Regions from separate parts of the Homo sapiens genome. Here region 1 is linked to region 2. The links come from fine-mapping of genetic effects on gene expression. Tissue or cell type: lung. Region 2 holds a variant in brackets; the other region holds the start of a gene. All regions are shown on one strand. Distances are from middle to middle. Region 1 holds the start of TENM4 (teneurin transmembrane protein 4). Region 2 overlaps TENM4 (teneurin transmembrane protein 4).

Region 1 (5,377 bases), 33 kb before region 2:
GAGCTGGCTGTTTGGAGGTCTTAGGCTGAATTTTACAACTAGTGTTTCCTATGGCACAGAGCAGCCATATAGGAGAATCTCCGGTTAGCTATAGAGTTAGATTATAACATGGTAGCAACTGACCTTTTTTCCCCCCTCTAAAATGCTCCCTGAATTCTACTTCCTCCTGAATACTCTTGACATCGCAATGAGTAGTACCACCTTCTATTGAGATACCCAAGCTTGAAAACTGAGTGTCACTTTGGGCTTCTCCTTGCTACCCCCATCCAATCAGAAATCAAAATCATCCTCAATCTCTCTCAAATCTCTCCTCCCTTTTCTGGCTTCATTGCAACTGCCTTAGTTTCCCTAAATGACCTACTTTTTCCTGCCTCTACTCTTCCTAAGTCACCCCAGTTAATCCATTTCTCTACACTGCTGCCAAATCATCTTTTGAAAACACACTCAAGATCACATCCTTCCTCTTCTTAAAAGCCTTTATTAACTGTCTACCCTCCTTCTGCCCCAGTACCTGAACTTTCAGGATGTTTGGATCCTTAGCCTCCTTCAGGCCCTGTCAAAATCCAATCCTAGATGCTAGGGACTCATCTAGACTCCTCCAAGACCCTCCCCCAATATGTCCAACTCTGCTATGAGTGTCTCATGCTTTTGTCCATGTCATCATACTATTGCCTGTACCTAAAAAGCATCTCCCCTCCTTTCACGGTCTAGCTAATTCCTTGCCTTCAAAACTCAGCTCAAGGCCAGGTATGGTAGCTCACACCTATAATCCCAGCACTCTGGGAAGCCTAGGGCAGAGGATTGATGGTATTTGAGACCAGCCTGGGCAACATAGTGAGACCTCATCTGTAAAACAAACAAACAAACAAATAAAATTAGTTTGGCGTGGTGTGGTGGCACATGCCTGTGGTCCCAGCTACTCAAGAGGCTGAGGTGGGAGGATCACCTGAGCTCAGGAGGTTGAGGCTTCAGTGAACCAAGATGGCACCACTGCACTCCAGCCTGGATGACAGAGTGAGAACCTGTCATCTCCTATGGGAAGTCTTCCCTTACTCCCAACAATTCCATTGGGCATCCCTCATGATTAGATTCAGGTTATTCATGTCTACCAGGAATATCACAGAAGTGATATGTCCTTCCCAGTGCACTATATCAGGGGCCACTTGATGTCTATTTGTCACATTCCTGCTAATACTGATTTTAATCACTCAAGGTGGAGTCTTTCAGGTTTTCTATTGAAAAGTTACTATTTTCCCCTTTGAAATTAATCAGTATCATGTGGGCAGATACTTTGAACCTATATATATTTTTTGTTTCTCAACATACTTTCACCCACTACTTTTAGCATCTGGGTCTCATTTTTCTCACTGGTCAAATGAAATGCATAGACTGAAAGTGATTTGCAAAATTATCACTCTCAAAGATCCCTTTCTTATACTCCCTGTCTTGGATCTTCTGTAATGAAAGAATTTGTCCACCAAACCAATGTTACTCCTTCAGGTACATGTGTCTCATTTTCTCAGTGTACATTCATGAAACATGCCTACTGAACTGTAAGCTCAGAAAACAGGGCCTGTTTGTCTCACCACTGAATGCCGAGACCTATCACAGCACCTGCCACAAAGTAGGTGGTCAAGAAATATTTGTTGAAGGACTAAATCTAACTGCCAATCACAGCTGATGCCCAGCATTTGATGTCTGCAGTGAGGACACAAAGTTGATAAATGCTATTCAAAGGCAGAGACTTGACATTTTAGTTAATCTCAGAGGCTTTGTCACTGGTCACTGTACACTTATCATAAAGATTTTAAAAATAGATTGGACAGATTGTGTGGAAACTTCCCACCCACCCCAACCCATCCCTGCCTTTCTGAGATGCCCTAGTTATGAGATGTTGAAGGGGCATTCCAGCACCCCACGTTTATAATCTGTGATGCCTTTATAATCAGCATATGGCAACTGGCTAGACAGTCTCCTCACCACACAGAAGAGTTTTCAAAATAGCCTACCCCTCCTTTCACATTTATGTGAAATTAGCATTGTCACATTTCCTCCTTCATTGACTACTTTAGATCAGAGAGACACACTGTAGCAGAAGATCATGAAGGAAGTTGTCTTAAAGAAGGAAACTAACATAAATTAAGCATCTCATATACACCCAGTGCTTTCTTTCCATTGTTCTCTCTTTTAATCCTCACCAAAACTGGTGAAGTCGGTATCATCCATTTTATAGATGAGAAAACTGAAGCCGGGTAAGGGGAAATGGCTCGCACTAAGTCCTTTAGCCAGCAGGCAGCAGGGCTGGAGTGGGAATTCCTCCAGTCTCTTCCCCAAAGCCCTTCCAAGTTGCCACTCAGTCAAACTACCGCTCTCATCACATAAAAATGCCCTTCTCTTGGAAATGTGCTTGCCATCACGATCCAAACATTCGAGGGACAGAAATCTCTTGGACCGCAATCACTGCTATTTTTTAAGTGATTGTTATCACGACTCAGTAGCTGTTACCATGGTTTTGGGGAAGTTGTCCGAGGAAGGAGGGCCTTTCTTTGGGCATCTTGCATGCCTGAAGAAGGAACTCAAGATCTCAGCTCTTAATTACTCTGATTGTGCTGCAGTAGCAACTTGAAAGAGACCGTCCCTAGAAAAGTGTTGGGGTGGGGGGTGTGGAGTAACATCCAGCGAGCAGGCAGAAGGGAGGCCCTGGGCGCCAGAGAGACCCAGGGAAAGGCGAAGAGGAGGGAGAGGGGACGAGACCGTGCTACGGGGAGCCTGGAGAGAAAGCCAAAGGAGGAGGAAAGAACAAAAGGCAAGAGGAGAGGAAGTACAAGAAAGTCCAGAAAGGAAAAGAGAAAGTTTCAGAAAGGGGAAGAGAAAGCAAGCAAGGAGGGTAAAAGAAGAAAGAGACCAGAAAGATACCGAACTGAGAGAGCTCGGAGAACTCGAGAAAGCAAAGGAGGTAAAAGGAGAGAAGATGGAGAAGGCGGCGGAGAGGAAGGGGGAAGGAGACAGAGGAACCGAGACTGGGGTGAGGGAGCGGCCGCGCGTGGCCCCCGGAGAGGCGCCCATCACCTGCGTGGCGCCCCCCCGCGCCGGAGTGCGGCCCTGCTCCCAGCGCCAGTGCGCCGCGCGGCTCGCCGGCCTCGTAGGATTGGCTACCGCCTCCCATTCATGTAACCTGCGTGTGCGTGTGCGTGTGTGTGTGTGTCTCTCTCTCGCTCGCCCTCTCTTTCTGTGTGTAAGAGAGCGAGGGTGGGGGACGGAGGCAGGCAGGCGAGCAGGCAGGGAGGGGAAGAAGAGAAGGGAAGCTATTAAACACACACACACACACACACACTCACACACGCGCGCGCACACACCCGCCCCAACCCCCCAGAAGCCTCGGGATTGCAGCTGTTTCATGTGGGGCAGCAGTGCTGGCAGGGACGCCGGCCGGGAGCGGCCGGGAGCGGGAGCCGGTCGTGCGCGCGCGGCTGGAGGCTCGCTGGGGCTCCGCTCCCCGCGGGAGCTATTGTTGGTCTCGCTGGAGCTGAGCGCAGAGCCCGGACCTGCTCCTTCCTGGGCGCCCCGCTACGGCTCGCGGAGCAGAGGAGCCGCGCCGCCGAGAGAGAGAGGAGCCACCGGCGCGGCGCCTTGCCTCCCTGCCGCCGTCCTCGCCGCTTCCCCGGCGGTAGCAGCCTGCAGCCACGGTAAGGCGGCGTGATCCGCTCTACGGAAAAGCGCCTTGGGGACCGCGGCGACGCCTCGCCAGCTCCATCGCCCTCTGCACTGCTGGCCCGGGCAGGGTTCGGGTAGCTCACGCGGCTGCCGAGGGCTCCGGGAGATGTTTGCTTGCTCCCCTGGCCCAGGAGGAGGGAGGCTAGGGCGCGGGTGGCCGAAGAGGCAAGCTGTTCTGGAGCCTGGAGCCGCCGCAGCCCCCGGAGCCCGCCGCGGACTGGAGCCTGGGAGCAAGGGTTGGGGGAGGGCAGGGAGGTGGGAAGCGGGTGGGAGGGAGGCGGCGCGCCCCAGGTTCGTCTGCCTCTCCCGGATCCCGTTCCCCGCCCCGGCCCGGTCGCCTGCAGCCCCTCTGCAGACTAGCTCGCCCCAGGCCCCCGTCGGGCGCTGGAGGAGCCCGCGAGGCGGCGCCGGGCTTCAGCGGCTGCAGCCTGCCCTGCGGGGCAAGTGCCGGCTGCAGCAGCCCCGCACGGGCGGTGGTTGGAGCTCAGATCCTGGAGATGCGACCCCAGCTCCTCGCCCTCTGCAACCCGCGGGGCGCCCGCCTCTCCTCACCGGGCGCCCGGCCGCGGTATTGATGTTCGTCTAGGAGCCAACTGAGGCTGCAGCCGCCAGATGGACGCTTGGAGGGCTCCCGGGTGTGAGTGTGACTGTATGACTACTCTCACCCCCAGCTTCGGGAAATGTGCTCTGGGTTGAAATGTGATCACCGAGCTCCTCAGTCATTTTAATTGCCATTTTTAAATGCGGTCGTTACATTGGAGGAGCAGACTGGAAGGTAGTGGGGCGGCGTGTGTGTGTGTGTGTGTGTGTGTGTGTGGACACACACACGCAACCGAGGAATACACAACCAACTACTTGGGTGAAGGGCGGGGGGTTCACCTAGTGAGTCCTTCTTGGCGGGGGGGTCGGGCGAGTTAGCTGCCCGCTGCCCGCCCCTTCTCTGCCTGCCCCCGCCTAGGCGAGGTTGGAAAGTACTGGAAATTCAGCTGCGTGGTCCTTAACTTTGGAAATTGGCTCCGCTTTCAGGGCAAAATGTTAAGGCGATTTATGCACCCGCGTCCATGTGGATGAGTGTATTACTGCTCAGTTGGGTGCAGAGCCCTCAACAGTACCGCGCCAAGCCCCCACCCGATCTCTAACTCCCTCCCACCCCCTAACCGTGGAGAGAGGGTTTATAGAAATGCAGTTATCTGTAAACCATCGACGCAGTGAAAGGGGCGCAGGGAGGCAGCCAGAGTTTTGCCTGAACCTGCATACTGGCTTGGTGTTTGTAGCACACGAGATCACCCCGCTGCTTTGTAGAAGGCGGTGGTGGGGCAAGCTCGGGATTCCAATCGCCGGGGTGGGGGGTGGGGGGAAGAGGGTGCCCATGTACTGAGCTCTGAGGCCGAGTAAGGAGAGAGATCTGCTGAGCGGCATCGCGGGCAATTACATAAGCTGCCTCGGTGATTACCCGGAACTGTGATGCGAGCTCCCGGTTCTCGAAAGACAAGCCTGAAAGTTTGCCTGCTTGGGGAGTGTAAGTACCGGGGCGCCCCCACCCCGGCCTGGGTAGCTAGGATACGCCTCGCACCACGGCGCCCACTTGTGCGATGGGCGTCGGGTGCTGATGCTGCTGTCCCCAAAGAACCGGTTACCGAGGCAGGGACTAAGTGGGGGCATC
Region 2 (5,377 bases):
GCTTTAAACTTACCCTCTCTGAGCCTCACTTTTCCTATCTGTGAAATGGCCAAGTAGCCTGGATAGAAGGGCCAGGATCTACCACATGGAAGCAGAAAGTACAAGCTAGTAGAGAATATGGGTGCTGGCCCTGTAATGAGTGACCATATCCACTTGAGTGTGTGTTTGTATGTGTGTGTGTGTGTATGTGTGTGTAGAGGGGCACAGGGATGATTAACAAGGACAGAGGTAGGCCCGACATGGAGAAAGGTTCTCAAAGAACCCTCCCTGTAGAGTACAGGACTTACTATGGAGGTTTAGAGAGAAGGTAAGTGAAAGAAACGGGCAAGCAAGAAACTCACACTTATTAAATGCCTACCACGTACCAGGCACTTCACATCTCCTAAGCTCCTAGCCTTCACTGTAAACCCATCAGGCAGGCAATACTATTCCTAATTTTGAGATGGCCTCAGGAAAGGTCAGAGAAGGCAAATAAATTGCCCAAAGTCACAGCTCTTTGAATTCCAAAACTCTTTTCATATACACTTCTCTGCCTGTTCATACATATGTGTTAGGACAGGACTATATTCTGGGAAAAAGATGGAGTTGATATCAAGTGATAATAGTGTAATTCCTGTTTATAGAAACAATTGTAGGAGGAAGCCATTTCAAAGTGGTCATTTAGTCAGTTAATATGTATTGAGCCCCAGTCAGGCACAGTTCTAGGTGATGGGGATGCAGTAGAACCAGTCTCTCTGCCCTTGTGGAGAACTGAGAAGAGGAAACAAGTAAGTTCAGAAAGTGATCAGAGAGGAAATTAAACAGTGTGGTATGATGGAGCACTGGAGAGGTGCTGGGGACCTTAGATATTGTCTTAGTTTGGGTTCTTCCTAAAGCCCTGAGAAAAGGATTTGAGTGTAGGTAACAATTTGCAAGGTGATTCCAGGAAGCCTGCTGAGAAAGTAAGGAAGTGAAATGGGAAAGGAAGGGAAGCTAATAGAGCAAGCTTGTCCAACCCGCAGCCTGCAGGCTCCATGAAGCCCAGAATGGTTTTGAATGCGGCCCAACACAAATTCGTAAACTTTTTAAAAACTATGGGTTTTTTTGCTATTTTTTTTCTAGATCATCAGCTATCATTTTAGTGTATTTTATGTGTGGCCCAAGACAGTTCTTCTTCCAGTGTGGCTCAAGGAAGCCAAAAGATTGGATACCCCTGTAAACAGAGGGTAATTTAATGATTAGGTTACCACTGTGGGCAACTAGAGCTCATTCCTGCTGGGACCCTCAGAGGGACACTGACACATTTGCTGGACTATTGTTCCATCAGGGGCCAAGAAAGCTGGGGTATGTATCCACCTACAGATGTTCCTCATTGGTTGTGGAGCCTCCACCTCCAGAGAGTCCCAAAGCAGAGAAATATGTGTCTGACTTGAGTTAGGAAGCATTTATGGAGTGGAAGCAGTCTATGGAGGCTGCAGGTGGGTTGAGGGCATCCGTAGTGTCTGCTACAGCTGGTGTGCGTGGTCAGGCAGACTGCATTTGAGCTGAGACCTGGACTAGAGGGGGCAGCTATGGAGCAGCCAGAATGGTTCCGGGGGGGCTATTCTTCCACCCTCCTTCATGGGAACCTGCAGCTCCAAGAGTTAAAGTGCATCAGCAAAGGCGCAGCTGGTGAAATTCCCTAGCCACGCTGGATTCCTGCCGCCCCTCATTCCATTTTAACCCTTCTCCACTGGGTCACACAAATATGCCTCACTCTTATGAACCTGTGAATAGCCTTAGAAATGTATGCCTCATCAGATGATTTCAGTCCTGCTCTATGCCCCAGAATCTACCTTTAAATGCTTTAAACACTCCTAAACAGCTCTAAAATGTGCCCAAGTGTTCCCACCACTCTACCACACAGCTATTTTTAGCTCCAATGCCAATTTCTATTCCTTAGTATAATCTTTTTTTTTTTTTCTGGAAGAGAAGCTCACAACAAAATTTATCTCTACAGCTTATTCTAAAACCACTAACTCTCACGCATGTGCGTGCGCGTGCACGCACGCGCGCGCGCGCACACACACACACACACACACACACACACACACACACACACAAAATATCCCTCATAGACAACACTTTATAATTCAGGCAAAGGAAGACCAAAAGGAGAACTTAATACTTCTTATTTATTCCATTCAACAGTAAAGTGCCTTAAAAAGGCCATGCAATTATATTGTTATGTGATAATTATTAATTCTGCTATGAGCTTCCACTGAGCCCAGATCCCATCAAGCACCTCTAATTTTGCCTACAAGTCCTTCTGTACCACCTGATGGGTGCTGGGAAAAGAGCTGCCCTTCTCAACTCCTGGCATTTGGCTTTGATGGGTTTCCACTGCATATGCCTTCCTTTTTCATCAGCCACCATTTTCTAACATCTTTATGCATAAAAAAGACAAACTTATTGGGAGGAAATATCACAATCCCCCAAAATGCAATTTTCTTCCTTTCCATCTCCAATAAAGCATGTAGTGGAAAAGTTATTAGACATTTTTCCTAGTGGATTGTTTGTCAATAATATTAACAAAGCCAGTGTGTTGAATACCTGTATATGCCAGGTATTTGGGAGATTATTACAGAGGTTACATATTCTTGTTTAATGTAATCCTCAAAACGATTTTATTCAATAGTGATATTCTCTTTTTTAGATAAGTAGCTCTGCCTCTGTGACTTGCACATAAAGCAAATGGAAAAATCAAGGTTCCGACCCAAGTCTGTCTAATTCTAAAGCCCACGAACTCATAACCTGGCGTTTCTCTAAGTGTGGTCTCCGGACCAGCAGCATCAGCTTCACCTGGGAGCTTGTTAGAAATGCAAATCTTGGCCAGCATCCAGTAGAGTTTTTCCTAAGTTTTTCTCTAGGATTTTAACCAAAAGGAAAAGAAAAGGAAAGATGGCTGGGCGCAGTGGTTGGCCCAGC[A/C]TGGTGGCTTACACCTGTAATCCTGGCACTTTGGAAGGCCAAGGTGGGCAGATCACTTGAGGTCAGGAGTTCGATACCAGCCTGGCCAAAATGATGAAACCATGTCTGTACTAAAAATACAAAAATTAGCTGGGCGTGGTGACCGGTGCCTGTAATCCCAGCTACTTGGGAGGCTGAGGCAGAAGAATCACTTGAACCTGGGAGACAGAAGTTGCAGTGAGCCAAGATCATGCTCCTGCACCCCAGCCTGTGAGACAGAGCAAGACTCTCTTAAAAAAAAAAAAAAGAAAAAGAAAAAGAAAAAATGCAAATCTTCAGGTTCCACCCTAGAACTACTGAATGAGAAACCCTGGGGATGAGGCCCAGCAATTCCTGTTAACCAGCCCTCCAGGTGATTCTTAGCACAGAAAAGTTTGGGAAACACTATCTTCACCCATTTGTTAACTACTGATAAAGAGTTCAACTAGTAGATGAACTTTGAAGGAGGTTAAAATTTTCCCCTCTTCTTTGTGAATGTAATTAAAGTGATACAAATTTCAACAAATGTATATTTTTCTTCTAGAAAGCATGTCTTTTACATTTTGGGAGGTTTTAACTTTCTGTCACCTATCCTGATTTATATCTAGGTCTCGCTACTTATTAGCAGCAGGATCTTGGGAAAGTTACTTAACCTCTGTAAGCCTTGGTTCCAAGTCTGTGTATTGCAGATGAGCAGGATTCTTGTGAGTATTGAGTCAGGATCTGCGAAAGTGCTTAGCACGATATCAAGCATATCATAAATATCTAACAAATGTTAGCTGATTATTACTAATTACATGATTGGTTTGCTTGTTAGCTATTATTAGTAACAGTTTCTAAACTGTTTAATGCTTTTAAATTATATCCCTCATTAAGACGTCCAGCATCAGTTTTATAAAACAGTTTTCTATAACTGACCTAACTTTTAAATCCTGCCATTCTTATGTTTGACTCTTAGCAGTAAGTAGAATGATCAGAGTAACTGTCTGGAAGAGACCATCAATATTCCCATAAAAATTATTTATGGAAATCTGACACATAGTTAGGTACTCATACATATTCGTGGAGCAATGAATTGAGTGAATGATCAGTCCACACAGGCCACTTCTAGTCCAAATATTGGCCCCATACACTGACAGGTTGGGGGTCAGGGGCAGGAAACTGTCTCTTGTTCTCTGTTGATGGGCCCAGCACAGAGCATAGAGCCTGGCACAGAAGTAGATTGTCAATAATTACTTGATGATCAAATTTTTTTGCTTTCCTTTTGATACAGATATGCTTTGTTTCCTTAACCTCTTCTATCATAATATGCTTTGGGATCTGATAAGGAAAGATCAGAGTAAATATATATTTCTCTCCCTGTATACTCTGCTGCCCATATTTTTTTAAAAATACAGTTTTTAAAGAATTATCAAATAAGACTTAGGAGCCAGGAGACCTAGATTCTCCATTCTGCTTTGCTGCCAGGCTTAGATGTGACAAAGGCCTGACGCTTAACTCTTGGGTTCTTTTATTCCTGTGTAAATGGAGAAGGCTGGACTAGATAGGTGTTTTCCACGGGGGACTGGGACCAAATGGTTGCGTGTGTTACCTAAGCACGGTGTTAAGTAACATTGGATCACATGGTGAGAAAGTCTTGTTTCACTTCCTCTTTAATCTTTCTGATTTAGTGGAGGAGAAAGCCTGATTTTGGCACTGGTAGGTATTTAATACCTCGCCAATGCTTGTTCATCTCCCTGTTTAACAGAGACCTGAGTTTGGATGAGGAGGCAACAGTATTCACCTTGTTTTGTTCATCATATTCATTTTTTAACCTTTTTGTTTTCTATTCATGAAAAGATGGTGTTTTTTTCACTTAAGATAATGAGATACATTTTCCTTTTAAAATAAATTGATTCCAGAAACAAAGAGTCAGTTGAATGTGAAGAAAAATTGCACTAGGTTAATAATAGAGCAGATAGGCTGGGGGTGTGGCAGAAATCCAAAAGATGGAAGGAGCCTCATGCCACAATGACTGTCAGCAAGTCTCGGGTGCTACAGTGTAGGGAGAACAGAACCTTGTCTTTGGTCAAGATTGTATGTCTGCACAGTCAGGCCAAGAAACATCAGCCCTGGTGCGGTGGTTAAGGCTGGAACCATCAAAGTGAGCCCCCACTCCAACCTGGAGATCACCGTAGAGATTCTGGTCCCAGCTCTGGGGCAGGGCCAGATGTGTGCATTTGTAGACACCTCCATAGATGGGGTTCTCGCCCATCCGGAGTTCCAGATAAGGACATGCAGTTAAGAGCACATCTAGGAGCTAGTTGTTTTTTTTTTTTTTTTTTTTTTTTGAAATCACAATGCATTCAGAGAAATTAGATGGACAAAAATGTTTACCACATCATTTTTATATGCGTAAATCATTGGAACACAC

The links.
Region 1: it holds the start of TENM4, and the variant in region 2 is fine-mapped to the expression of TENM4 in lung (TOPMed, PIP above 0.99). The same link has a PIP of 0.9 or more in ileum.

What each region holds. Positions count from the first base shown.
Region 1 is chr11:79,438,818-79,444,194 of GRCh38, reverse strand. It overlaps TENM4 (teneurin transmembrane protein 4), which reads left to right and starts at 3,165. Exons shown (of 34, transcript NM_001098816.3): 1 at 3,165-3,686. RefSeq lists silencers at 3,037-3,206, 3,467-3,576.
Region 2 is chr11:79,405,765-79,411,141 of GRCh38, reverse strand. The region is part of intron 1 of TENM4 (teneurin transmembrane protein 4); the gene reads left to right. Among named protein-coding and RNA genes, the nearest start is that of MIR708, 6.3 kb to the right of the region's middle. The variant A/C (reference allele first, on the strand shown) is at 2,947.